Linked DNA regions of Homo sapiens. The protein of the gene in region 1 interacts with the protein of each later gene in a pairwise test. Each region holds a gene or a part of one and is shown in the gene's direction. Other genes may lie near its edges.

The links.
Region 2: the proteins of AATK (region 1) and MTMR10 interact in a two-hybrid assay, tested with the Homo sapiens proteins (one study listed by BioGRID and IntAct).
Region 3: the proteins of AATK (region 1) and PTPDC1 interact in a two-hybrid assay, tested with the Homo sapiens proteins (one study listed by BioGRID and IntAct).
Region 4: the proteins of AATK (region 1) and PPM1M interact in a two-hybrid assay, tested with the Homo sapiens proteins (one study listed by BioGRID and IntAct).

What each region holds. Positions count from the first base shown.
Region 1 is NC_000017.11:81,121,172-81,128,229, reverse strand, and holds part of AATK (serine/threonine-protein kinase LMTK1), read left to right. Parts: intron 1-319; coding exon 320-438; intron 439-559; coding exon 560-647; intron 648-1,669; coding exon 1,670-1,803; intron 1,804-2,274; exon of another isoform or gene 2,275-2,353; intron 2,354-2,856; exon of another isoform or gene 2,857-2,954; intron 2,955-3,215; coding exon 3,216-3,300; intron 3,301-3,381; coding exon 3,382-3,503; intron 3,504-4,886; coding exon 4,887-5,036; intron 5,037-5,406; coding exon 5,407-7,058. UniProt on the Homo sapiens protein: May be involved in neuronal differentiation.
Region 2 is NC_000015.10:30,939,629-30,946,628, reverse strand, and holds part of MTMR10 (myotubularin-related protein 10), read left to right. Parts: exon of another isoform or gene 1-3,253; intron 3,254-3,520; exon of another isoform or gene 3,521-3,556; coding exon 3,557-3,739; exon of another isoform or gene 3,740-4,556; coding exon 4,557-5,159; 3' UTR 5,160-7,000.
Region 3 is NC_000009.12:94,079,708-94,087,490, forward strand, and holds the start of PTPDC1 (protein tyrosine phosphatase domain-containing protein 1), read left to right. Parts: upstream 1-4,756; 5' UTR 4,757-4,823; coding exon 4,824-5,067; intron 5,068-5,543; coding exon 5,544-5,715; intron 5,716-7,783. UniProt on the Homo sapiens protein: May play roles in cilia formation and/or maintenance.
Region 4 is NC_000003.12:52,241,823-52,248,803, forward strand, and holds the start of PPM1M (protein phosphatase 1M), read left to right. Parts: upstream 1-3,936; 5' UTR 3,937-4,002; coding exon 4,003-4,226; intron 4,227-4,344; exon of another isoform or gene 4,345-4,492; intron 4,493-4,872; coding exon 4,873-4,990; intron 4,991-5,151; coding exon 5,152-5,406; intron 5,407-5,859; coding exon 5,860-5,972; intron 5,973-6,330; coding exon 6,331-6,415; intron 6,416-6,498; exon of another isoform or gene 6,499-6,512; coding exon 6,513-6,631; intron 6,632-6,814; coding exon 6,815-6,878; intron 6,879-6,981.

The sequences.
Region 1 (7,058 bases):
CTCATGGCCTTCCCCTGACCTTGGCCTAAACGAGACACCTGGGTCCCTCTTCCTCACTTCAAACCCCCAGAGAGAGAGAGAGAGAGGGCAGCGGGGGACCTTGTGGGGAGAGTAACACGAAAGACTCAGAATATTACAGCCAGAGGGTTGCCGGGAGGGATCCGGAAGCCATACCTCACGCTGCAATGAGTGGACGGGGCACAGGAGGAGAAGTGTCCTGTCCTGGGGGCCGGCGTGGGGCGGGTGGGAGAAGAGTAAGGCCTGGAAGCCGGGGCCGGTGGAGGCGGAGCAGCCGTGGGTGATGCTGTCTGTCCCACAGGTGTTCCTGGGGGAGGTGAACTCTGGCATCAGCAGTGCCCAGGTGGTGGTGAAGGAGCTGCAGGCTAGTGCCAGCGTGCAGGAGCAGATGCAGTTCCTGGAGGAGGTGCAGCCCTACAGGTGGGAGGCCACCGGGCACAAAGGCCTGTGCTGTGCGGCCCCCTCCTCTCCCTCCCCTGCTCGGCCCGACTCCCCCTCCCCACCTCCTCCCAAGTCAGGGGCCGCCTGTCCACTCCCGCAGGGCCCTGAAGCACAGCAACCTGCTCCAGTGCCTGGCCCAGTGCGCCGAGGTGACGCCCTACCTGCTGGTGATGGAGTTCTGCCCACTGGTGAGCTGCTGCCCGGGGGGATGCTGGGGTCTTTGCTGAGCCGGGGCCCTCCCTTGCCCTGCCAGTGTCTGGTGCCACCCCCTCCTTGGGGGCCTCACATCCTCCCTAAAGCCAAGACCCAGGGACCCTGCCCCCACCACCTTCCAGAGGAGGCGATGGGGAGACCTAGCCTCACCAGGGAGGGACTGTGGGGGCTGGGCACAGAACAGGCCTGGGCTGGGGCTCCCTGCACCCCTGGGGAGCTGCCAGCTGCTTGGTCACCTGCTTGTGTGCCCTGTGGTTCAGGAGGAGGCATCCTGGGCCAACTGGGGGGGGGCACTGGCCCACTTGGGCTCCACGGCCTCACTCAGGCTTGCTTTTGCCATGGGGGGCTGGGCCTGGCCACTTCCCCAGGCTGCCTGGAGTTCTGGGCCTGCCCATCAACGCCCCCCGCCCCGGGGACCTGTCCCCCCCTCCCCCTGAGACCTGCCCATCAACGCCCCCCTGCCCCGGGGACCCGTCTCCCCCTCCCCCGAGACCTGCCCCCCACCCCCTTCCACATATGCAGCTCCTGCACTGAGCCGAGGCTGTCTGTGGCTGGGCTGGATCCCCTGCTGGCTTCCCTCGGGACAGGGGCCCTCACACACTGGCGTCTGGACTCCTGACGTTGACCGTCCCGGGGCTGGGCTTTCGGCAGGTCAGGGGCTGCCGGCCAACCCTCGACCACCAGCCCCAGACTCCATCAAGCAGATCCACTTGGGCCCTGTGTTTCTCTCTCTACCACAGGCCAAGGGACTCCTGCTGCCCGGGGCTGGCTGAGGGGCAGTGGAGAGGAAGCCTTCAGTCCAGCCCAGCCCTGGGGGACACGGCCCCCCTCCAGGAACTGCTGGGTGCTGGCCACTGTGCAGGGCACGAGGCTGCTCTGGGCAGCTGCTGTCCCTCAGCTGTGGGTAGGGGTGGAGGAGTTGGGGAGGTAGGTGGGGACCTCCCAGGGTGGCCAGCCCCCAGCCTGCTGGTGACTGCGCCACACCCCCTTTCTGCAGGGGGACCTCAAGGGCTACCTGCGGAGCTGCCGGGTGGCGGAGTCCATGGCTCCCGACCCCCGGACCCTGCAGCGCATGGCCTGTGAGGTGGCCTGTGGCGTCCTGCACCTTCATCGCAACAATTTCGTGCACAGGTGAGGGCGGGCGCGGGCCAGCGGCCGGGAAGCCCTAGGCCAGGCCCCTCCCCTGAAGGAAGGGCATAGGGCGGGTCCTGCCTCAGGGGGCTTGCGAGGACCGGCCAGGTTCATCTCATGCAGCATCAGACAACCACTATGCAGAGGGATTTTATGACGTTTTTGAAAAATTGGGAAGACAATGGTTTGACACCCACTTTGCAGGTTTAGACGAAGAGATGCGTACTGTCAAGCTGGCCTGTTCTCTGTCCCCGAGGCAGTCAGCCAGCACCCTGCAGCCCCGCGCCAACCCCACACTCTGCTAAGCCCTCGCTTTGGGGCTTGAGGGAGACAGACCCTGCTTCGAAGGACCCTGGAGGGAGGGTTCTGTCCTGCTTGGGCCAGGATGCCCAGCCCCTGGGGACCCCGGGGGGACATGCTGGAAGAAGTGGCGAAGGACACGTGGCCCCGTCAGCCCCAGACGCCGCACGGCTGTCCTCTCCAACAATATCCTGGTGCTGAGTGATGACTCAGGCGACTCCAGCATCAGTGATTTTGTTGAAGAGGGCAGCTGCCAGCCTCCCGACCTGCCTGCCGGGCCCCAGCTGCCCTGCCCCCAACCCCAACCCACCCCACTCCACCCCCTAGGCCCAGGACACATGGCCCTGTAGCGATCCCCTGGCACGCAGACATGGGTTTTATGTGGGGAGGGACAGGCTGGGTTGGCCTCTGTCCCCACCCTGAGTCCTGAGCACAGAAGTAATACGGCAGCTGTGGTAATATCTACCCAGTACCCTGTGCCTCCTCACACCCACGTGACCAGCCAGGCAGGGTTCAAAGCCAGCAGCCAAGGCAGGCTGGGTTGGAGGTAGTGCCAGGCGTAACCTGCATTCTTTCCAGACCCTACCCAACCCTGGGGCCAGTGGTGGCTCAAGTGAGAGTGAGCTCCAGCTCTGAGTGGGCATGGCAGGGCTGGACCCTAAAACTGGACTCCGGCAGCCGGCAGGACCCCTGGGACACTCCAGGCCTCAGTTTCCCCATCAATTCCCACCTCCTGGGGAGCCGAGAGTGATAGTGTAGTAGAGCTAGGAGGAGAGGGTCCTGGAGAAGCGTGGACCGGTCCGGGTGGGTTCCGGCAGGTTCTCACCCTCTCTAGGCCCCATTCTCCTCTGCACTGTAACATTTGAGGCCCACGCACACAGTCCCTCCCCAGGTCTCAGGGTTGGGCACAGAGTAGGGCCCTGGGCAGGGATGGGGGGTGGCAGTGTCTCCAACGCCCCTTCCAGCCTGGACTGTGAGCCATCCAAGTGTTGGCAAAGGACCCTGTGCTGGATGCCCCCGCCCGGCACACCCCACTGACCCTCCCCCTGCCCCCACCCGGCACACCCTGCTCACCCTGCTCACCCTGCCCCTGCCCCTGCCCCTGCCTGCAGCGACCTGGCCCTGCGGAACTGCCTGCTCACGGCTGACCTGACGGTGAAGATTGGTGACTATGGCCTGGCTCACTGCAAGTACAGAGTGAGTGGGGTGGGGTGGGCTGGGCTGGGCATGAGGGGCAGGGCCTGCGCCGGCAGGGGTGACCCGTCCCTGTGCCAACAGGAGGACTACTTCGTGACTGCCGACCAGCTGTGGGTGCCTCTGCGCTGGATCGCGCCAGAGCTGGTGGACGAGGTGCATAGCAACCTGCTCGTCGTGGACCAGACCAAGAGCGGGAATGTGTGGTGAGTGCGGCCCTGGTGGCACCGTGAGGGGCCGAGGCCGAGTGCCACCTGCCCACCCATGTCAAATCATGGCCATGAGTAGTGAGGTCAGGGGGCTGCCGGAGCCACCTGTAGTGGCCACACGCCAGCAGCCCAAGTGGCTGGTTGGGTGGCGACCCCACACCGGGGGAGATACCACCCTGACAGGGTGCCCCAGGGACCCCATGGTGGGGTCAAGGCATACGTACAGGGCCAACGGCCCGTCTTCAGCATGCCGGGGGGTCTGTCCTGAGACGGGGGCCTTGGTGAGTACCTGTCCCTGGGGAGAGGGTCTGGGTGGGGTGTTGGCTGCCTTCACGGGAGCGTAGGTCGGGCCGTGCCAGGCAGAGGGGCTGACGGTGGTGCTGGGATCTCCCACGGCCGCAGCCTGGAAGCCCCTATCCTGAGTGCCTAGCCCGGAGCGTTCATTCACACCTGGTGTAGACTCGGAAGGGGCAGGGCCGAGCCGCCAGGGGAGTGGTCCGCCCCGGGGTGGGCGCCCCTCCCTGCCTCACCTCTGCTGCTTCCCCAACCGCCCCCACCACTCCCGGGCTTTGGTCTGGCCGCCTTCTGCTTCTGGGGAACTCTCAGATCCCACGGGCCAGGCCCCCTCCCTGAGCTTTTGGGGCCTCCCCTAAGCCACTTGACTGCCCCATCATGGACACTGTCCCCTCCTCACCTCTCCACCAAGGTGCCCCTTCCTGGCCTGCCCACCCACTGCACGCTGGCTGGGGTCTCCAGTCACAGGGCTCTGGCCAAGGTCATGGTGACGTCTTGCCAAATCACCTCTGTCTCACTCTGCAGCCTCTTGGGACAGCCAGGGACCAAAGTGGCTGGGTGAAGCCACAGCCCACGGGGAAGGAGACCCCAGTTACCCTACCCGCCTGCACGCTCTGTGCACCCCTGCCTGTTACCCAGCCCTGCCCATGCTGGCCTGAGGCGTCCCCTCTCTCCCCTTCCTTCCCCCTCCCTCCCCCTCCCTCAGCCCCCTGCTGGTGCGGGCCCTACTCCGCTTTGGGCTCCACGCCCGCCCTCCAGCTCCCCCAGGGCAGCTCCCACACCGGGCAGTGTCTGGTCTTCAGTGCATCAGTGAATGAATGAATGAGTGGACAAGCAGATGGATTCGGCCAGCCCGGCCTTTATGTGCAGGCTCCACAGGTGCTGGGCTTGGGCCTGGCAGGGTGCACATTGCCTGCTGAAAGGACGCGCTGTCCTCAGGGAGGGGCGGCTGGTATGGTACCAGGCCCCGGTCCTGAGGCACTGGCGTGATGGCGGGAGCTGCCCCATTCGGCGCCCCGGGGATCCTGCGCGGTCCTTGCTGTGGCAGGCTGTGCCCAGCCCTGGCTCACGGCTGTCGCCCCACAGGTCCCTGGGCGTGACCATCTGGGAGCTCTTTGAGCTGGGCACGCAGCCCTATCCCCAGCACTCGGACCAGCAGGTGCTGGCGTACACGGTCCGGGAGCAGCAGCTCAAGCTGCCCAAGCCCCAGCTGCAGCTGACCCTGTCGGACCGCTGGTGAGGGCCCCACTGCCCTGTCCCGGACAGCCAGGCCGAGATGGGGTATCCTGATCCCCAGGCAGAGGCGGCTCACCCTGACCCCCTGGCGTTCCAGCCCTGCCTGGTCTCCCCTCCCCTCTGGTAGGGCCTCCACCCGCCACCTCTGCACCCCTGTGTACAGGGAGGGAAGGCTTAAGGATAGTGCCCAGCCCACCTCCTGCTCCCACGCTGCTGGGCTTGCCTTGGCAGATTTGGGGTGTCAATTAAGTGGGAGATACCCTTAATGCCCCCAAGACACTGGGAGTTAGGGGAACCCCCATCCCTGCTCCAGGGACGCGTTCCTGGCCAGCGTTGCCTCTGACGTGGCCCCCGGGGGACCTCCTCGCAGGTACGAGGTGATGCAGTTCTGCTGGCTGCAGCCCGAGCAGCGGCCCACAGCCGAGGAGGTGCACCTGCTGCTGTCCTACCTGTGTGCCAAGGGCGCCACCGAAGCAGAGGAGGAGTTTGAACGGCGCTGGCGCTCTCTGCGGCCCGGCGGGGGCGGCGTGGGGCCCGGGCCCGGTGCGGCGGGGCCCATGCTGGGCGGCGTGGTGGAGCTCGCCGCTGCCTCGTCCTTCCCGCTGCTGGAGCAGTTCGCGGGCGACGGCTTCCACGCGGACGGCGACGACGTGCTGACGGTGACCGAGACCAGCCGAGGCCTCAATTTTGAGTACAAGTGGGAGGCGGGCCGCGGCGCGGAGGCCTTCCCGGCCACGCTGAGCCCTGGCCGCACCGCACGCCTGCAGGAGCTGTGCGCCCCCGACGGCGCGCCCCCGGGCGTGGTTCCGGTGCTCAGCGCGCACAGCCCGTCGCTGGGCAGCGAGTACTTCATCCGCCTAGAGGAGGCCGCACCCGCCGCCGGCCACGACCCTGACTGCGCCGGCTGCGCCCCCAGTCCACCTGCCACCGCGGACCAGGACGACGACTCTGACGGCAGCACCGCCGCCTCGCTGGCCATGGAGCCGCTGCTGGGCCACGGGCCACCCGTCGACGTCCCCTGGGGCCGCGGCGACCACTACCCTCGCAGAAGCTTGGCGCGGGACCCGCTCTGCCCCTCACGCTCTCCCTCGCCCTCGGCGGGGCCCCTGAGTCTGGCGGAGGGAGGAGCGGAGGATGCAGACTGGGGCGTGGCCGCCTTCTGTCCTGCCTTCTTCGAGGACCCACTGGGCACGTCCCCTTTGGGGAGCTCAGGGGCGCCCCCGCTGCCGCTGACTGGCGAGGATGAGCTAGAGGAGGTGGGAGCGCGGAGGGCCGCCCAGCGCGGGCACTGGCGCTCCAACGTGTCAGCCAACAACAACAGCGGCAGCCGCTGTCCAGAGTCCTGGGACCCCGTCTCTGCGGGCGGCCACGCTGAGGGCTGCCCCAGTCCAAAGCAGACCCCACGGGCCTCCCCCGAGCCGGGGTACCCTGGAGAGCCTCTGCTTGGGCTCCAGGCAGCCTCTGCCCAGGAGCCAGGCTGCTGCCCCGGCCTCCCTCATCTATGCTCTGCCCAGGGCCTGGCACCTGCTCCCTGCCTGGTTACACCCTCCTGGACAGAGACAGCCAGTAGTGGGGGTGACCACCCGCAGGCAGAGCCCAAGCTTGCCACGGAGGCTGAGGGCACTACCGGACCCCGCCTGCCCCTTCCTTCCGTCCCCTCCCCATCCCAGGAGGGAGCCCCACTTCCCTCGGAGGAGGCCAGTGCCCCCGACGCCCCTGATGCCCTGCCTGACTCTCCCACGCCTGCTACTGGTGGCGAGGTGTCTGCCATCAAGCTGGCTTCTGCCCTGAATGGCAGCAGCAGCTCTCCCGAGGTGGAGGCACCCAGCAGTGAGGATGAGGACACGGCCGAGGCCACCTCAGGCATCTTCACCGACACGTCCAGCGACGGCCTGCAGGCCAGGAGGCCGGATGTGGTGCCAGCCTTCCGCTCTCTGCAGAAGCAGGTGGGGACCCCCGACTCCCTGGACTCCCTGGACATCCCGTCCTCAGCCAGTGATGGTGGCTATGAGGTCTTCAGCC
Region 2 (7,000 bases), on another chromosome or scaffold:
ACCTCGAACCAACAACAGAAGCTGACAAATGCCGTGGAGACCATTGAGAGAAACAGAAAGGGGCAGCTCTTGTGGACCTTCAGGAAGCCTTTCTAGGAAGAGGATTGCCCTCATAGTGAGCTCCGGGGTCTTCAGCCTCAGCCGTAAGGCCCTGGGCTAGGCAGTGTGACCTAGGGAGCGGGAAACCTGAGTTCTGGCCCTGGTCTGGGAAAAGTGCTAGGCCCATGTTCCACTCAGGCTTCAGCCTGAGAGTCCAGGTTGCTAACCTGTAAAATGGATCTGTCAAACTAACACTTATGCCTTTAGTCTCATTGTATGAGGTGAAACATTTTGTAAACTGTGAATCATTATGCAAATTTTCCTAAAGACATATGAATTATTCTGGATTTGTTGGTATAAAAGACAAAACACACTGGTCAGTTAAGGAGCTGATTTTATTTAGGCTATTGCAGGAGGGAGAACTTAATTAATGGGCATCCCAAAGAAAAGGACAAGGCCTGGGATTTTATAGTCAGAAGACAGGGGAATCAGGAGGGAGGGCAGTCTCAGTCCACAGGAGCCAGTTCTCAGGACACAAAAGGCAGGAGAGATTGTCCAGCATTGCCACTTTTGGGGAACCCAGGGCTCAAAGAAACTCAACACCGTCAGCCTGTCTCTACAAAAAATACAAAAATTAGCCAGACATGGTGGTGCGCACCTGTGGTCCCAGCTACTGGGGAGGCTGAGGTGGGAGGATGGCTTAAGCCCAGGAGGCAGAGATTGCAGTGAGCTGAGACTGTGCCACTGCACTCCAGCCTGGGTGATAGAGCCAGAGTCTGTCCCCTGCCCACCCCACCAGGAAAGTTTGACCTTTCCAGATACTGTGCTGAGAACCAGTGATACAGGCTTAGAGGCTCCTGAGGCATGGAACGCTCATTTGTTCCTAAAATACATGCTCTCCCAGTTGCTTGTTTTTATTTTTCGTCACCATAATCATTCTTGGGGCCCCTCTCTGCCTCGAGCTAGGCTTTCCCCCTGGCCTTGTTTGCCTCCTTCAGCTCTTCCCCATTGTCTCCCGTCACTACCCCGTGCGCACACAGTGTGAGCCTGCAAAAGGTGCGTGAGGCGAGGACAAAGACTTTGGGGTCTGGGGACTGGGCAGTGCATGGGTGGGTATCTGCGTGGAGGACTCCCAGCCCCCAGACACCACTGCCTCTGCTGCTTGGCTGATGCTGTGTGTGCGGACAGACTTCTCACCAGGAATGAACATTACTGAATTGTATTGAGGGAGCTGTAAAAAATACTTTCTACAAGTATTTCCTCTGCTTTCCCTGTTCATGTTCTAGTGCTCTTTTTAATTTGGCTCTTTCAAAAGCCTTTTCTGACAAATACTAACATGAATCCCCCTCTCCCTTCCTCCCTAGCAGGAACTGGTCATTGTCTAAGGGTCGTGATTCTTAACCGTTCTCAGCCCCTTCCACACAGGCAAAAGCCCAAAGCATTTCTTCCTTTTTTTTCCATTCTGAGGCCACCTTAGGTGCTAGTGGCCAGGTAGTGTTTATAGAAAATCTGGTCTCTCTTGGGATAAATATTTTTAATTTTTACCTTTTAAAAAAGAGAACATCTTTTTTTTTTTTTTTAAGACAGTTTGGCTCTGTCACCCAGGCTGGAGTACAGTGGTACAATATCAGCTCACTGCAACCTCTGCCTCCTGGGTCCAAGCACTGCTCTCGCCTCAACCACCTGAGTAGCTAGGACTGCAGGCGCATGCCACCACGCCTAGCTAATTTTTGTATTTTTTTGTAGAGTCAGGGTTTCGCCATGTTGCCCAGTCTGGTCTTGAACTCCTGGACTCAAGCAATCCGCCCACCTCAGCTTCCCAAAGTACTGGGATTACAGGCGTGAGCCACCGTGCTTGGCCAAGAGGACATTTTCTATATACTTACTGAAGGGCCATTAAAACACGTTTGGGTTCATGTTTTACTAGATTTCAGCTCTTAACAGTGTTTGAAGCAAATGGATTGTTTTTAATCCATGTACATGATGAAATGTCAAGTAACTAAAATTTTTTTTTTTTTTTTTTTGAGACAGAGTCTTGCTCTATCACCCAGGCTGGAGCACAGTGGCATGATCTCGGCTCACTGCAACCTCTGCCTTCCAGGTTCAGGTGATTCTCCTGCCACAGCCTCCCGAGTAGCTGGGACTACAGGTGCACACCACCATGCCTGGCTAATTTTTGTATTTTTAGTAGAGACGGGGTTTCACCATATTGGCCAGGCTGGTCTTGAACTCCTGACCTCGTGATCCGCCTGCCTTCGGCCTCCCAAAGTGCTGGGATTACAGGCATGAGTCACCACTGCGCCTGGCCAAAACTGTTAAGAGTATGTGTATTTGGTGCTTAATGAATTTTTACTTATTTGAAATAGAAAATTTTGTAAAACTTTACAAAATGCCCTGTGCTGTTACACAGCTTAGCCATTTCTTGATGATTCAAGCCGCCACTGTGCCAGGGAATGCCACCTGGCTGTGATGTAGTCATGGCCTCCTGACTGCTATATTCTTGTCCTAATAACATTCATTGTTTGCCTTTTTAATAATTTCCAAATAAATTCTTGGGGGTTTTTTTTTGGTAGAAAATTTGGAGAGTACTGAAAGGTACAGAACAAAGAATCAGACATTTCCCATCATCCAGCGACTTTGTGTCTGGAGTTATTTCCTCCAGCGAACTGTTGTGTATACACTGCTGTGGTAGCCTGCTGCCATCAATCAGCTGAGATGAGAGTCCTTTCTCCACATTGCTAAATGTGACTGTGCTTCATAGAAATGGTCTGGGCTGCCTTCCAGAGGAGCTCCATGTCTTCCTCACAATGCGGTGGTTGGCTGTCACCCTGTAGCCTTGTGTTGCCTCAGTTTACTGTGGTGGGAAGCCAGATAACTAGGCTGCACCCGCCCAGAGTCCGGGCTAGAGGTGGACTCCTGTGAAGGAGGGGTCTCCTGTGTACATGGTCTCCATGGTTTTAGCCACATGCTAGGACCACAGGGAGTTGATCCCTTCCTTCCTACCCTGAGTCTGTGGTCTGTGATTTGAGATCACTGGCTCAGTGAAGTGTAGCTCCCCACTTACGAAGTAAGTTATAAAATTGGTGGCAGTGATTTCCATCCAAAGATTTTGTTAATCCACTTACCAACAGGTAACTACTTAAATGTACTGACCGTGTGCTCATAAAAGTAAAATACTGTAATTATAGAAATAAATTCAACATGTTTAAGACTTTCTAGTATCATGTTAGTGAAACTTCTCTTAATAACATTCTTATTGCCCAAAGGGCACGGCTTCCTTGGGGTCCTAAGGCAGAGGGCACCTGAAAAGCACACTCCTTGTTCATGGGGACTGTGGGGCCCTCTGAGCTCAAAGGCCAGGAGCGTCTCCTCTCTTGAAGTGAAAGTGCCACTCTGGTGGGTTTTGAGGGCTGCAGTACAGAACATTTAACCTGTGTAATGATGAGTGGCTCATCTGAAAAAAGGCATTCATGAGAGAATCTTTAGTTTTGCAAATATTTATTTATTTATTTTGCAGGAATTTGCTATAAGCAAAAACATCCAATTGGGTGATGAGAAGGGCTTAAAATTCCCCTCTGTTTGGGACTGGTCTCTCCAGTTTACAGCAAAGGATCGCACCCTTTTCCATAACCCCTTCTACATTGGAAAGAGCACACCTTGTATACAGAATGGCTCCGTGAAGTCTTTTAAACGGACAAAGGTAAATCACAGCTAACAAAACGTGATGTTGGCTCACACGTAACCAAACACCTCTTTTTCAGAACAGAGAGCGTTAAAAGTAAAGGCACTTCCAAGAGTAACACTGCTAATGCGGGTTTCTGAGGGGTCATTCCCTTTTTAACTCAAATGACTGTATCCCAGCTTTCTTCCTGGTGTCTGAGGCCCACAAAGTCTCAGTACCTGAGAGTGGGCAGATTGCAGCTTTGAGCCTGCAAGCCTGATTTACTAAAGCCCCATTTATCCATTTCTTGATGATTCAAGCCGCCACTGTGGCAGGGAATGCCGCCTGGCTGTGATGTAGTCATGGCCTCCTGACTGCTATATTCTTGTCCTAATAACATTCATTGTTTGCCTTTTTAATAATTCCCAAATAAATTCTTGGGATTTTTTTTGGTAGAAAATTTGCAGACTACTGAAAGGTACAGAACAAAGAATCAGACATTTGGCCTCCTGACTGCCTCTGTTCAGTTTGCCATTGTTCTTGATAGAATCGGCCAGGTCTAGTGTTTTTTCTAGCCCGTCTTAGAACTTATCCTTAAGCAAATTAGTGGATAGGAGGTACTCTCATCCCGCCCCCATTCAGGCTGATAGTAACAGCCTAGGTAGAGTCAACACATAAAAAAGTGTAATTCCAGGGGAGGAGGATTAGAATAAGGACACAAAGGAAGGGAGGAAAATGTTCTTTGAGGCTGAAATTCCATTAATTTTTCATAGTATTGAGTTTATATTTGCCATTGCATCCTTCAATCTTTCTAAAAAGGGAATCCCCGGAACATAATAAAATCTCTTCTGTATAGAAAAGCTACAGCTCCACACTAAGAGGAATGCCGTCTGCCTTAAAGAATGGAATCATCAGTGACCAAGAATTACTTCCAAGGAGAAATTCATTGATATTAAAACCAAAGCCAGATCCAGCTCAGCAAACCGACAGCCAGAACAGTGATACGGAGCAGTATTTTAGAGAATGGTTTTCCAAACCCGCCAACCTGCACGGTGTTATTCTGCCACGTGTCTCTGGAACACACATAAAACTGTGGAAACTGTGCTACTTCCGCTGGGTTCCCGAGGCCCAGATCAGCCTGGGTGGCTCCATCACAGCCTTTCACAAGCTCTCCCTCCTGGCTGATGAAGTCGACGTACTGAGCAGGATGCTGCGGCAACAGCGCAGTGGCCCCCTGGAGGCCTGCTATGGGGAGCTGGGCCAGAGCAGGATGTACTTCAACGCCAGCGGCCCTCACCACACCGACACCTCGGGGACACCGGAGTTTCTCTCCTCCTCATTTCCATTTTCTCCTGTAGGGAATCTGTGCAGACGAAGCATTTTAGGAACACCATTAAGCAAATTTTTAAGTGGGGCCAAAATATGGTTGTCTACTGAGACATTAGCAAATGAAGACTAAAATAGGGTGTTTTCTGAACATTTTGAGGGAAGCTGTCAACTTTTTTCCTCTGAATTAACATTGCTAACCTAGGCGTTTGAATCTCTAATAACTTTATATGTAAGAATAATAGTTGGAATTTGCACTAATATTTAAAAACATGTTGAATCATGCTTCTTTCACACTTATTTTAAGAGAGATGTAAATTTTGTTCCTGTCCTCTTTCTGTCATTACAGGTCTGGCTCTTGTAACCGTGATCAAACTGTTCATGTTGTCTGCTACATTTTTGTCTCCATCCATTTTTCCTACCACCTCCTGAAGGCTATCTGATAGTCAGTCACATTAGCAGCCCCAGGCAGCAGACAACAGGAAAGTTAGGAAATTTGTGTTTCGTGTCATTTTTAGGAGCATCTGATAAAACCTCCAGCAGGTTTTAGGAAGTATTCATGTATTTTTCTGGTTACTTTCTGTCGTCTCTAATTGAACTCACCTGATGAAGGTTCAGTGTTCTGGGGCCAGAATTTATGATTTTAGATCACCTTCTTTGGAACCTTAGATCACTGTGTTTTGAAATCATGAGTTTGCTTTTAACTTCATAGGGTCAACTTTAAAATGATATGCACTGTTAATTTTAAAGCATTTGCTGCAGATAATTAAACTTAGAAGTGCCTTTGACTTTAGGATACAAATATTACAGAAGAAAATATAATTTCACTTTTTAAAATTGGGGTGGGAAAATCCCATTGCATATTTGAAATAGGCTTTTCATACTAAGCTTCATAGCCAGGAGTCCCCAGAGTCTTGTTCCTCTGAAAGCCACTGGGGAGTGGCCTCTGGGGTGCTGATTCCACAGAGGTGTATGCTGTAGACAGGAGAGTGCCATCTATGCCAAAACTCGCCCTCAAAAACAAACAAGGCTTGCTGGGAGGCGTGCTGGGCTTGGCCATCAGTATTTCCAGTGTGGTAAACTATTGCTGGCACTTCCCCCTGGAAATAACTAATGAGGTTACGAGTTGGGCACCTGCACAGATGTCCTTCTCTCATAGTTCCTAATGCTTAGGAATAGAGGAGAAATAAAAAAATGGATTCTCTCAAAACACTGCCATTTGAATAGCGACAGAAGTGCTCCCCCAGCCCCCAACTTTGGACAGCAAAGTTGAGGAGAATGAGCAGACACAGTTGTTTGCTTGATCTGAATCTCTCTAAAGTAAAGTATTTCCAAACTGTGTGACAAGAGCCTACCTACCACTGTAGCGGTCAAAGCTGAAGCTTCTTACAGCAGTGAAACGGGGCACCACCTCCCCCACACTCCTCATTCCCCGCTTAAAACATGGATACTTTCAAATTTGACTGTTTCTTAAACTGCCATCCTAAGATATGGAAAATTTTTATAGTAAAGTGTCTAGTTAGCTTATTTCCTTTTCTAAAACAAGTGTTTTCAAGATAACTGTATTTTACCTTTATATGTACTGAATAGCTGTTTCTTTTTGAATTATTTGCCTTTTAAAATTTGATAATGTCTCTGGATATAACAGGACAGGAGTTCTTAAAAAATATCTTAAGAAATTCACTTTATGGGTAAACCCAAGGTTTTTGCCAACTTGTTGCCTAGAAAATAAGGGCTAGTTTCAGTTTATACAAATAGAATTATTAAACATTTTACAGTCCTTGATTAGAAACCAGACCCAATCTCCTTATAACACCACAGCGTATCCTGCCATTGACAGTGTAATCACAATTCTCCCTTTTTCATTTAGCTGCTTTTTTATTATTACTAAATGTTTTGGATTGAGCATTTTTCCCTCTGTAATTTTCTTCCTTCACGTTTATTTTAACTCTTGTAGTATTTTATTGTTGTTAA
Region 3 (7,783 bases), on another chromosome or scaffold:
AGAATTCTCTGTTTTTAAGGCCTGCTTCTCCTTCTGGCTGAAGTCTACTAGCCATGTCTCTGGAGCTTGAGGCGGGGACAACAGCCCACTTCTCTGAGTGATCCCCCTACTTTGCAAGGTGAGCAGGAATGATAGCTTCTGGTCTTCTTGGCTTGCCTAAGTGTGGAATCTTTGACCTACAGATGAGGTGGAGCAGGGGCACTTGGGAGAAGCCAGCCAGGGTGAGGAGGAAATCCATATGGGAGAGCAGCCCAGCAGTGGCGAAGCCTGAGCCAGATAACACCTGTGTGGGAGAGTGACCTGGCCCAGGTTATTAGAACATTCCCAGGCATCAGAGCTTGGGTCAGGTTGGGAGGGCTCCATGTGGCAGGGTGACCCTACATGGAATATTGGAACATAGGCAGGATGAGGAGAGCATCTACCCAGGTGGGTGGCAGCAGCAGCTTGGCATAGGTGTTAAAGCCCAGATGGGATGAGAGAGGCATCCACATGGAGGAGGGAGCAGAGGTAGTGATGGGAGACTGGTTACATGTAGGGGGCTTGGTCAATTAGGTAAATATATTAAAGATTACTGTGCCCAGGCTTCTCACAGAGTTATAATTATAGGTACAGTTGTGGAAAGGGTGGAAATTAGAGGAACTCTGTGGTGTTGGCTTGGAATTGGTAGCATCAGGGTAAACTCTTGGTTTTCCATATGTATATATGCCTACATATGGGAATAAATATAGATGTAAAGTGTGATAATGTATGTGCCTGTGCATAATATCCATATTCTTTAGCACTGTCCACTGAGAGGGCCTGGCAGCAGTAACACTCTAATGGCAATGAGCATACCTAACACACAGACATTGGTTTCTAGATACCGTTCTTTACTAATAAATGCAAGGGCTTCCGAGTCTAATCATGAGGAAACTGCATGCCCAAATTGAGAGAGATTGCTACAAAATAACTGGCCTATACTCTTCAAAAGTGTCAAGGTCATCAAAGTCAAGGAAAGACTGAGGAACTTGTTCAAGTGTGAAATAGGTGAAAGAAACAGGACAACTAAATACAACATGTCGTTTTACTGTAAGGAACATTTTTGGAGTAATCAGTGAAGCTTGAATGAGGTCTGAGGAATAGAGGGCAAGTAGTAATATCTCAACCATAATTTCCTGATTTGGGGTAATTTTCAAGAATATCTTTGTGGGAAATATACACTAAATTATTTGGCGTAATGGGGCAGCATTTCTGCAAGTTACTCTAAAAAATTCAAGGGAAAATATTCTTTTTTTCTTTTTCTTTTTCTTTTTTTTTTTTTTTGAGACAGTCCCGCTCTGTCACCCAGACTAGAGTGCAGTGGTGCAATCTCAGCTCACTGCAACCTCTGCCTTCCAGGTGCAAGCAATTCTCCTGCCTCAGCCTTCCAAGTAGCTGGTACTACAGGCATGCGCCACTACACCCAGCCCATTTTTGTATTTTTAGTAGAGACTGGGTTTCACCATGTTGGCCAGGTGGGTTTCTAACTACTGACCTCAGGTGATCTGCCCTCCTCAGCCTCCCAAAGTGCTGGGATTACAGGCATGAGCCACCATGCCCAGCCAAGGAAAAATATTATTTGTAACTTTTGTAACTTTTCTGTAAGTTTGACATTGATTCAAAGTAAAAATATAAAATATTCTCAAAAATATATGGGCCAGGCATGGTGGCAGGCACCTGTCATATTGGCTACCAGAGAGGCTGAGGCAGGAAGATTGTTTGAGCCTAGGAATTCAAGGCTGCAGTGAGCTATGATCACGTCACTGCTCTCTAGCCTGTGTGACAGAGCAAGGTGCTGTCTTTAAAAAAAAATTAAAAATTAAAACTAAAGTGTTCGATTGTGTTGCATGCTGCTGCACAGTCAAATAGAAACTCTAAAAAGTCCACCTCAAAACAGATCATCGGAGGCCTTAGCAAGAGTGGTTTGATTTGAGAGTGGAGGCAGAGGCCAGAGCTGAGTAGGCTAAGGATGAGACCTGTGACACGTGGAGATGGCAGGTGTAGTCACCTTGGTTTGGAGGTTTAGCTATGAAGGGGAGAGAAGAAGGGCCCTCAGAAGAAGGGAAATTATAGTGAAAGATCTGGAAACAATTACATATACCTAGGAATGTTTGAAAAACAGAAATAGGGAAAGTCTTGGAAAAGTTCTGTCTTCGGATATTTGAAAATCTTTCAAGACAAAGAGAAGCTTTATTCTTTATTTTCAGTGGGAAGAACCAGAACCGATGTTTATAGAATGGATTTTAACTCAACACTAGAGAACATTTGAAGCCCAGCGTGTTGGCAGGCATCTGTAGTCCCAGCTACTCAAGAGGCTGAGGCAGGAGGAGCCCTCGAGCCCAAAAATTTGAGTGCAGCCTAAGCAACAAAGTGAGATTCCCATCTCTAAAGAAGGAAGGAAAGAAAACATTTGAGCTGTCTAACAGTGGAATAGTCAGTTCCCTTGTGAAAAGTGAGCCTCTTGTCACAAAAAGTAGAGAACACGAGGCTGGAAATTCAGCTGTACAGCAAATTCCTGGAAGTAACTCCTCCGTGGACTTAAGAATGCGGATAGGTGGGCCTCCCACGCCCACCAGGCACCCACTGCATTCTCAGCCTATTGTTCTATGACTTTAGGAAGCAATGATCCCTTTCTGAAATCTTGAGTATAGAAGGAAATTACTAGTTCTTGGTGTTCTAGATCTCACTTTTCAGTGTTTTACCTGCCCACTTATAGAAATTAAGGAAGAAAAGACTCAGTACTCACTGGTACATTTTAGTGGGTTTCTTTGTTGTGTTTATTGTAACTGATTTCATATTTGTCATGATCAGTATCTCATTTTGTTCCTTAAATATTATTCTAAATTTGGTTCTCGTGTCCAGAGGTGGGTACATTTCTTTTCATCTGCCTCATCAATGCAAGGTATATTCACAGCACCTCATTGTTGGGAACACTGAGCAAGCATGCAGAAAGGGCTGCTTTCACCTTGCAGAATCCTGTTTGCGTTAGGCTTGACTTCCTTAGACATTGACACAGGGTCACTGACTGTACGGTAACTGGGGTAAGCTCAGTCATTTTGTGTTTATTTGAGGTCAACCCAGGGCTCAAGATTTCACCACAGAGATTATTCTTGAGGTGATCTATAAACCATCCCTTCCTTAGCTTGGTCCAAATAAGTCCTACCCCTACCCCTTATCTAATGAAATTAGTTGTCATTTTTAGTGTAGTTGAAAGCAGTTACTTTTGACTTTTCTCTGTAGATGTCCTCAGATGCTGGTTCTCCAGGCCATGGACTTGTTTCTGCAGAGCTCACCACTCTTGTTTCTCAAGAGCTAAGTTAACATTCTGGAGTGCCACATACTCAGAAGCACAGACTTGCCCAGAAATCTTCTTAGACTCCCTCTTACACAGATAGCAAATACACAGCTCCTTAGTTTGAGCATTTAGGGCCTCCTGCCAGTAAGTTCATGTTCTTGTCATGCAGACCTCTGTGCAACTGCTGTTTCTGTGTTGCCCTTAGGGTCCTGAGGGCCTTGCCTAGAATAATCCTCATATAATTCCTCCGACAGGAAAGCTGTGCTTTCTTCCATGGCTGCATTCTAAATAACAAAGGCATGATACTATACATAGAGTAGGAATTTGGACACCAAATCGGGATTCTGTGTCCCTGTCTTATTCGACAAAAGTGCACATTACTGGGGAGATGGGGGCGGCATTTTAAAAGGAGCTTGGTATAGCATTAGTAATCGTTAAAAAAAAAAAAATAGAAAATAGCCTTATCTGTAGCAGTACAGTAGTTTGTTTCTGTGCACACACATCTGAAATACCACTTGTGCAGAGAGCTAGCGAGCAAGCGAGGGCGCAGCCTGACATTAACAAGGGAGGAGGCGGACAATGAGTACATTAGTGGTTGTTGCACTTTCTGTTTTCTTTATATCCTTTATCTTCAAGTTGCAACCTCCCCCTCATCTAGTTCCTTTAAAAATGTGATATTTAGTGATCTTTCTTTGTATGCCTCTGCCAAGACATTATTGAAGCTTCTTTTTTCCCTCACTGCAACAAAAGGCAGAGAATGGTGTTTTGAGTTTTTGAGAGGCATGGCTACTATAACTGTCCAACAGAGGCATAACTAAGAATTGGGTTTTTATATTCTGAAAATGAACACATGAAGTTAAATGTCTTCTGATAATATATCACCTCTAAAAATGTCTTTATTTGTTCTATCCAAGTATTTCTTTAATAGTTTTACCAAGAAAAAATAGAAGTGGTTTTGGTTATGAAAAATTGGATGATATTTTAATAATCTTGTAAGGTGTCCAGCATATCCCACTTTATTACAATTAACTTTTTTCTGCACTATTCAAACGAGGAGTAGAAAGGTAATTTTTTTCAAAATATCCAGAGACAGGTTGTGAACAGAATAACAGAATTTAAGCCTTTTAACATGTATGTAAAAGGCAGTTTTTGCATCAGGAAGACAGTTTTCTAAATTCACTACAGTATTTTGGGGAGTAATTCTTTGGTTAGATATTTTAAGTGCATTTGAGAAACAAAATTTAGTAATCAATATATTTAAAATTTATATTATTCTTCCCTATATTTGAACAATTTGTCCAAAATGCAATCTGTTCATATTGGATTTTGCCTGTTCAGATCTAAGTGGGAATCAGTAGTTTCTTTGTTTGTCGCCATGGAAACCAGTCAGCCAATCTGAATGGCTCTTAGATCATACAGAACGATGCAATGCTCCCTGCTCTCAGTGAAAGTTCCTCACTGAGTGAGTGGGGCTGACTCTTCCTGCCTCCGGCTCTTGCCTCCCAGTGCCATGCAGGTGCAGGATGCAACCAGGCGGCCCTCAGCCGTGCGCTTCCTCAGCTCCTTTCTCCAGGGCCGCCGGCACTCCACCTCAGACCCAGTACTGCGGCTGCAGCAGGCCCGGCGGGGCTCTGGCTTGGGCTCCGGCTCTGCCACGAAGCTGCTGTCCTCGTCCTCTCTCCAGGTGATGGTGGCTGTTTCCTCAGTCAGCCATGCAGAGGGAAACCCAACTTTCCCCGAAAGAAAAAGTAAAGGTCTCTTTCTTCTTATAGATTGCCATACCTATGTATATAAGTTTGAGGAATGGGAATCAGCTGTGTTGTGTTTATACCTTTTTAAATATTGGCAGTTTATTCTATATTATACTTTTTGCTGTCTGTTATGCTATTTTAGTGAATATATAAGAGGATATAAAATGATCAAATGTTTTGTGTTTTTTTATTAAAAATATAGGTTTGAACAAAACTCATTCTCTTGTAAAACATCTGCTTCTACAGTTTCTTCCTCCTAATTGCCAGTATGTGTGGAGATTATTATATGTGAAAGCTTTTTTACATTAAGAGATATATGTCACTTTGACAGGGAAACAGTTTTGTTTTCTTGACAAGATGAAGGTGATTTTGCACTGGCTTGTCATCTACCATCCTGAGATAAAATGGAAGCTATTTCCCATGTTACAATTTCATTTGGAGAGTGGAATTTTGAATTTTCCTTTCCTTATATGTTCTAGGAAATTTAGAACGTCCAACACCAAAGTACACAAAAGTAGGGGAGCGTTTACGGCATGTCATTCCTGGACACATGGCATGTTCCATGGCGTGTGGCGGTAGAGCTTGCAAGTATGAGAACCCAGCCCGCTGGAGTGAGCAGGAGCAAGCCATTAAGGGGGTTTACTCATCCTGGTGAGTGATCCTGTTGGTCTTTCATAGCTCTGTTGGATACAGGAAGGACACTCTGTGTGAGCCAGGAGCCCTGAAGTGTGGGAGGAGCAGTGTGGGACTTTGAAGTCAGGACCTCACTTTGCCAGTCAGTTCTGGCTTTGCCTTAGCTGTGTGATCTTGGCCTATTGACCCTCAGTTTCTTTATCTGTAAGGTGGAAATAATAAAACCAAAACCATAGGGTTTTTTAATTAAGTGAAATGATATATATAAAGTGTATTGAAGAAATGGATAATTAGATAGCTCTTAAATTTCAGAAATGTTTAGAAATAATAAAACTTCAGCTATAAATTTGAGAAAATTATGATGTACATGTGTAATTTTTCAGTTTCATGTAGGTAAGCTTTAGCTTTTATGTTATTCCTATATTCTATATGAAAGGTCACATTTTCATACAAATACCCTTCAGTCTACCCTAATAAAAGTGGTACAAGTTGTCAGCTCAGTAGAAAACATAAGATATTTGCTTTTTTTATGGTGTATAAGTGAAATTAATATTGTTCTTTAATCATACTGCTTTTTATTAAACAGTAAACTAGTCAAATACACCTTTTTGATGTAGTAACATCTGAAAAATTCTGATAAATCACATTTGAAGCATACTTAGAGGAATTCACTGTTTAATTCTAGTAGTGAATTATTTTATACATCAAGAACCCATTTTTCAATTAGATATTTGTCAACTGGCTTATCCAGCTTACAACCTGTACTTTTTCATATTGGATTTGCTCAGTACATCTGTAGTGATATAGTCTGGGGTCCACTGTCATTATTGTTCACCACAGGTCATATTCTGGTCCATCACTATCATACTAATAGTATGAAGAAGGAAACATTCATAGTCAGACAAGAAAATTTCTAATAATGTAGCTTAGGTCATTTGCATATTTTTGCTTTATTGCTGACTAAATCATGTGAGTCTTTTTCACCTCTGCTGCTTTCACGTTACATCCCCCTTCATCTTACACTAATTATCACTGGGGGTCCAAACTTTTGGGTCCCATGTTAAACCATATGCCTTCTTTCAGAGGGAAAGGTGTCATTTTGGATCCTGCCCTGACAGTCTCTGTTATTCCCCTGAGATTCATGTGACCCACGACTTCCAACAGACTTACCTTATATATCTCATCAGGCCACTGATGAGAAATTTGAACAGAACAGAGTGAAGCCAGAGCCCAGAGGCCTGACAAGAGTAATAGTCATTTATTGGGCGTCTGCCCACTCATTCATTCAGTAAATATCCATTTGGCTGTAGGCCAGTCAGTGTGCTAGATGCTTTCATACTATTATCTTTTATCTTCATAAAACTCTTGTGAGCTGTTAATGCCATTTTATCAATGAAAGAATTGAGTTCCAGAGAGACCAAGTAATTTGCTACCAAGCTAGAAAGTAGAAGAGCCAGCATTTGAAACCAAGCCCAACTGACTCTGGAGCCCATATTTGTCACCAAATTACAGTAACTCAGTATTTATTCATAACTGCATGTCAGGATTTGTGCCAAAGACTTTACATCCACATCATATTGAATTCTCACACCAACCCTGTGAGACAGGCATTATTATCCCCATTTAACACCTTGTAACTAAGATTCAGATAGTTGAATAACAAAATATCTCCCAGTTGGCCCTCCTCATGTAAGTCACTACCCATTGAGTAACAATCCAGACTGTTACCTTCACCACCAGCTGAGTTTTCTCCATCATGTCCACTAAAATCTCTTGAGAGTTCTTGAAAATACTTTGCTGGAATCCACAAATAATTTATGTCTTGGAATTTTTTCCAGGGATTTAAGAAGCTAGAGTTTCTTAGAGCTCTAATCATCCAAAATTGAAGCCAGATTTGTATAAGAATATTCTTACACGGGTGCACCAAAATCTCAAAATTCACCACTAAATAACTCATCTATGTAACCTGAAATAATCTGTACCCCAAAAACTATTGAAATTTTAAAAATTAACCTAAAGAGAAAAAAAGCAAAGTATCTAACAGTGCCTTTACTAGACTACCTTTTGTACAAGAAAAAGCAGATAA
Region 4 (6,981 bases), on another chromosome or scaffold:
TCACCAAACACAGAAACCATCAAAGAAAATCTTTCACTTCCAAAATTAGTCTATAGAAAAAAAAAAAGAAAATCTTAACCCAAATAAGAGACTGAGGCAAGAGCTTCAATCAATCGAGGTTTACTGAGCCAGAGTTGGAGCGTGCCCAGGAAAGCAACACAAGTCAAAGAAACGTCTGTGGCCTGTGCTCTCCCAAGAAGTTTTCAGGAGGCTCAATATTTGTACATTTCTTTAAAGGGGAGAAGACAGTGAGGCAAATGGTTATGTTTTTGTGAGACTCTTAATTAGTGTCCCGTAAATCTAAGCTATATGGAAGATAGGGTGAACACTGGAAGAACAGGGAGTAACAGAAGAGCCAATTATGCAGAGGTCTCAGGTTAGGTGGAGGAATGATTGATCTCATCTTATCCTTGTTCTGCACCTGGGCAGATAAACTTGTAATTGACATTGTCAGTGTGAAATTTAACAGACTTTGGTTTTAGGAGTTAGGTTTAGGTTGCAGACCTAAAGTTGCAGTTGACATGTCCTTGTTTTATAGGAGGATATACATCCTGAAAGTTTTAGGGACTGGCAAAGAATTTACTGCTGAGCAATTTGTGATTGCAGTCACCTGGAGATTCATGAGGCTTTTTGCCTTTTTGTGGGGATCTGGTTAATGCATAATATTTTGACACAAGGTTGCAAGGTAACAGGTATCCATTTGGGAAAAGAATGACAGTTTTGGAGAACATTAGTTCTGCAGCATAGAATGAAGTGTTGCCGGAATAAAATTAAAAAAAAAAAAAAAAGGCTGGGTGTGGTGGCTCATGCCTGTAATCCTAGCACGCCTGTAATCCCAGCACGCCTGTAATCCTAGCACGCCTGTAATCCCAGCACGCCTGTAATCCCAGCACTTTGGGAGGCCGAGGCGGGTGGATCACCTGAGGTCTGGAGTTCGAGACCAGCCTGATCAATATGGCGAAACCCCATCTCTACTAAAAATACAAAAATTAGCTGGGCATGGTGGCGGGTGCCTGTAATCCCAGCTACTGGGGAGGCTGAGGCAGGAGAATTGCTTGAACTCGGGAGGCGGAGGTTGCAGTGAGCCGGGATTGTGCCAGTGCACTCTAGCCTGGGTGACAGAGCAAGACTCCATCTCAAAAAAAAAAAAAAAAAAAAAAAAAAAAAAAGGAATGCCAGTGTTGTGTGGCTCAGTCTCCAAGCTTAACTCTCCCTTTAGCATAACAAATTTGGGGGTCCTGAAATTTTTATTTTCCTTTATGAAAAGATCAATAATCCATTTGCATAAAAAATAAAGTCTATATGGAAAAAGCCACCATCACAGCCAAAACACAAATAACAAACTGTAACTTGTTACAAACAGCATACTTGTAACTCATTTCAAAATAAAGAGCTGATTTCTCTAATATATAAAGAGCTCTCATAAGTCAATAAGAAAAAGACCAATGGTAGCCAGGCGTGGTGGCACATGCCTGTAATCTCAGCTACTCAGGAGGCTGAGGCAGGAGAATCACTTAAGCCCAGGAGGCAGAGGTCATGGGGAGCCGAGATCACACCATTGCACTCCAGCCTGGGCAACAAGAGCGAAACTCTGTATCAAAAAAAAAAAAAAGAAAAAGAAAAAGACAAATGGCCCAGTAGAAAGTGTGGCAAAGGATACAAACAGACCATTCACAGAAAAAGATAGATAAATAACATCTCTCAGGAAAGTACCTCCCAGTCACCCTTTGTTGGAAAGTTGTTGAAGGATGCACTTCAGCAAAATGAGGGAGTAAACCAAGAGACATAGGCTTAAGATCCAGGCAAGAGTGAGGCGCTTAGGAGCCCAGGAAGCCAGAAGAGCCTGGTAGCACTGAAGGAACACTCAGGCCACCTTGGAACAGAGAGGATGGGATTGCCATGTGGTTCCACATGGCTCTGAAAATAGACAATGGCTAAGCTGTGCAACAGACTGCCTATGACATTTGGTTGCCCAGAGCTTCTGTGAAAATACTTCAGGACAAGGCTTTCCCCCACCCAGGGGTGGGTTGGGGAATAGAGTGTATGCACTTTGTTTTGTCCAATTTTAGACTTTAAAATCCTCTGAGGCATCAACTGGTGAGGGTGAGGAAGTGGCCCCATAGACTGAATTGGGCCTGCCCCACCCTGGTACCTTTCTGTTCTGTCACAGTGACAATTCACAGCTCAGAGGTCCTTTGGGAAACTTTCTCTGACATCGCCCCTATCCTCTTGCCAGCTGGATGAAGCAGCATCCACCAGAACTGCTACCATCACTGCAGGGGGCTTGGTGGGCAGAGGCCTGGCTTGTCTCCATTAGCACTGCGTTCCTGTGCCCAGTGTGGCCCCAGCAGACACTGTGGGTTCAGTCAATCAGCCCCCAGGCTGGTCTGGGACTGAGTCATCGGAGGGAGTGGGTGTTGGGCACAGGTCCCTGCCCTAAGAACCTTCCTTCTTGGGCCCGAGGAACTCCCACTGGGGCAGGACTAGCTGCTGGGAGGAAGTAGGGCTTACTGAGCGTCTACCTGGGCTAGGGAGTGGAGGTGAAGGTGGACTCCTCATACAGCTCATATGCAGGCACTGGGCTGTGGAGCCTTAGCCGCTTTTAATTGGCAAGCCCTGGCTTCCTGGAGGAGGAAAGGGGAAGAGAAGTGCCCTGGGGGCGAGGATTGAGTCAGCTGCATTGTCATAATGGAAATAGTACAGCCCTGGGTGTCCAAGACTTCCCCTCCATGGGCCTCAGAATCGTCCATATGATGTAACACTCTTTTTTTTGAGACTGAGTCTCGCTCTGTTGCCCTGGCTGGAGTGCAGTGGCTCCATCTCGGCTCACTGCAACTTCTGCCTCCTGGGTTCAACCGATTCTTGTGCCCCAGCCTTCTGAGTAACTGGGATTACAGGCGCACACCACCACGCTTGGCTAATTTTTAGTACAGACGGGGTTTCACCATGTTGGCCAGGCTGGTCTCGAACTCCTGACCTCAAGTGATCCGCCCGCCTCGGCCTCCCAAAGCACTGGGATTACAGGCGTGAGCCACTGCCTCCGGCCAAAGTAACACTTTTGCACAGGGAGTTGGACTTGAGTGACAAATGGGTGACAAAGTGCTTTGTTAACTCGCAGATGTGAAGGGGACACTGCGGCTGACCGCCTGGTGACAGCTAGCCAGTGGTTGAGAGACCGCAAGATGGTTCCTCGTCTTTCACTTCCCTCCGTCCCAGGTCTGAACTCGGACCAGCTGGAGCCTTTGGGGGACCACGGATTCCCCTTTACACTCACACAGATTTCTCTTGTCCGTCACTCACTCACAGTCCAGTAAGGATCCTGCTGTCTATTCCGCGAAGACATCTTGAATGCAGGGACAGCCATTTGGAAGACTGTCCTCGAGGGTGGCAGCAGCCTCTCAGGACGGGGAAAGCCAAGGTGCCCACTAAGCCCGTCTGGGGTGGAGGGTGGCAGGCCGGGGTGGAGAGGATTGGAGGCCGCCTGAAGGAACCTGTGCTCGGTGGCATTTACTCAATGTGGGGGTCTGACACCTCCCAGCTCATTTTGTCCCCATCTTCCCCTTGCGTCAGGTCCCCACCCAGCAGGAGGAGGTCCGAGGATCTGCGCGACGCTGGCCCCGCGGAGTGTGGGGGACTTTTCCTCTCAACCACCAGTGCCCCGCAAGCGTGGGTGAACAGTCCTCCCTGGCTACTGTGGGACGCTGGGCAGGCGACTTCGCCTCTCTAGGCCTCGGTTTTCCTGCTTGTCAAATGGGGCTGATGCCGGCGTGGGCTTCTTCAGGCGGTCGCGAGCGTTGACCCCTGGAGTCAGCGAACCAGCCGCGCACGCACTCCCGGGCGGAGGTCGGGGCTGGGGGGCGACGCCTCCCGTCTGCGCGCCCCCGGCCCCGCCTCCCGCCGGCGCACCCCTCCCTCGGCTCCGCCCGCGGCCCGCTTCTTCCTCCCGCGGGCGGCCCAGCCCTAGCGCCCCGCGCTCCGCGGGCAGCCCCCTGCCGCCGCGCCATGTCCGCCGGCTGGTTCCGGCGCCGCTTCCTGCCTGGGGAGCCGCTCCCCGCGCCGCGGCCGCCTGGGCCGCATGCCAGCCCCGTGCCCTACCGACGGCCCCGCTTCCTTCGCGGCTCCAGCTCCAGCCCCGGGGCGGCCGACGCCTCGCGCCGCCCAGACTCCCGGCCCGTGCGCAGCCCCGCACGAGGACGCACGCTACCCTGGAATGCAGGCTACGCCGAGTGAGTGCCCCTCCCCGACCCCCAGCTCAGGCCCGGGCCTGAACCCGCTTCGGGTCCTGCGCCCGCCTAGAAAGCGGGAGGAGCTGAGTGACAGTCCCCACCCACCTGTGGACAGCCCCTTCTTGCCCTCACCTCCGAATCCTGACAACTTCCCGGTCATCCCGACCCAGCGTTTTCCTTGGGATTCCGACCTCCCCCTCAGAGAAGACAGGAGGTCGGGAAGGACCTGCAGCCCAGGGGCTTCCAAGATGAGGCCCAGAGACTCGGTAGAGTTCCAGCATTCGGGGCTTTGGAGATTTCCCCTCGCCCTCTACCCCCACCATCTCACCCTGGGTATGACCTGCGCTGTATGGGACAGGGCTTTGGGCTGCGACAGGACAGGGGCAGGAATGGCAACCTACCCTTACCGTCTAGCCCTGGGTCACCAGGTAGGCTCCAGAGGAGCTGGGCCCTGACTTTTACCTTAGCCATGAGGCCAGTGAAGTTAGGAAGCTTACATCGTGGTTGTCTAAGTGTGTGTTAGGGACAGCACTGGGGAGCTGTTGCCCCAGAGGGAGGGGTCTTCTCCCTGTGCTGGCTTGGGTCCCTGTGCCCATGGGGACATAGGTGTGTCCCTGGAGGGTCGCTTACCATTTCCCGGCCTCAGGATTATCAATGCAGAGAAATCTGAATTCAATGAGGATCAAGCCGCCTGTGGGAAGCTGTGCATCCGGAGATGTGAGTTTGGGGCTGAAGAAGAGTGGCTGACCCTGTGCCCAGAGGAGGTGAGTGCAGTCTGAGTTCTTGGCTGGAATCCCTCCGACAGGCTGGGGCCACGACCTGCAGGCTGAGGTTCTTACCCTGCTGCCCCAGGTCCTAGTTAGGTTGCGTCAGGGGACAAGTGGGGAAGTCAGGCAGAGGCTGACACTGAGCCCTTCCTGTGCAGTTCCTGACAGGCCATTACTGGGCACTGTTCGATGGGCACGGCGGTCCTGCAGCAGCCATCTTGGCTGCCAACACCCTGCACTCCTGCTTGCGCCGGCAGCTGGAGGCCGTGGTGGAAGGCTTGGTGGCCACTCAGCCCCCCATGCACCTCAATGGCCGCTGCATCTGCCCCAGTGACCCTCAGTTTGTGGAGGAAAAGGGCATCAGGGCAGAAGACTTGGTGATCGGGGCATTGGAGAGTGCCTTTCAGGAATGTGTGAGTGTGTGGCTTTTGGCTGGGGAAGAAGTGGAGATTTTGCCCCGGGGATCTCAGGAAATGGCATCTCTGTATACCCATGGTCATCACACCAGATCCTTGGATTGGGAGGATGAGATTGGGTTGGTTGGATTGTTACTAACAGCCATCACTATCAGCATAACCCCTCTCATTTATCCAGCACCTACTGTGTGCTAACTGCTTTTACCTGCATCATCTAATTGAATACCCTATTGGTCCTTGGTGCAGGGGCTGGTTTCTCTTCCTATTTTGAGTAGCACTTCCCTTGTCTAGATCTCCTGACTGCAGGGATCTTGGAGGTATGGCTGGACTTTGGGCTGGGACTGTCAGGCCTGCTGGTAGAAGTGAACTGTAGGGTAGGGTGGGGATTGAGAGACAAAGTAGTATGGTGGCAGAACAGGCAGCAGCTAAGGTGGCCTCGGTTTTCCCCAGGATGAGGTGATCGGGCGGGAGCTGGAGGCCTCAGGCCAGATGGGCGGCTGCACAGCCCTGGTGGCTGTGTCCCTGCAGGGAAAGCTGTACATGGCCAATGCTGGGGATAGCAGGTGAGTCACCCCTTGGAGGGTGGGCAAGGGTGGGATGGGGAGGGCATAAGCAGCAATGGGGACAAGCAAAGGTGGCTGGAAGTGGAGGGATAGTAGGAAGGATTGACTGGCTGAATTGTGTGTGTACTTGTTATGTGTCGAGTGTGGACAGTGGCTGCCGGGGAGGGCAGGGACCTCAAAGGCCCCGCTAAAGGGCTAAGCCTTCACCCTTGCAGGTCTTAGGTAGTCATGGAGGGCTTTAAGGGATCATCATGGACAGAGCTGGATCCTGGTGGTTGGAGGAGGGACTGGTAGGAGGGTGGCCATGGGTGAGGGTGGAGGCCTCCTCCTAGACCTCTCCCTTCTCTCCTCAATCCAGGGCCATCTTGGTGCGGAGAGATGAGATACGGCCACTGAGCTTCGAGTTCACCCCAGAGACTGAGCGGCAGCGGATCCAGCAGCTGGTAGGTGCCCTTGGCAGCATGGAGGCTGTGAAGCTCCAACTCCTGGGTCCAGGGCCATAAGAAGGAGTATGACCTGAGCGCAGCCTCCCCACCCCAGGCCTTTGTCTATCCTGAGCTTCTGGCTGGTGAGTTCACCCGACTGGAGTTCCCTCGGCGGCTGAAGGGGGATGACTTGGGACAGAAGGTTTTGTTCAGGGATCACCACATGAGTGGCTGGTGAGTGGGGATGGGGGACAGGTAGGAAGGGAGACCCCTGGGATCCAGGCCCAGCCGTATGGCCTGGGGCCCCCCTCCACCTTGGCAGGGTGGCACTGTGAGGGTGTGACAGCTGGGCCCTGAGTTGGGGAAAGATGAGATGGGGCACAGGGCTTGGGTTGATGCTGGCTCTGCTCCTGGTAGGAGCTACAAACGTGTGGAGAAATCGGATCTCAAGTACCCACTGATCCATGGACAGGGTAGGCAGGTCAGTGCCTGGTCCTCCTCAACCCCAAGAATCCCTCTTCATTGTCCCCTGCAGAGGTGGGAGCTCCTTTGCCTCTTGCTGGTAGCTGTGGCTGGTGGCCTGG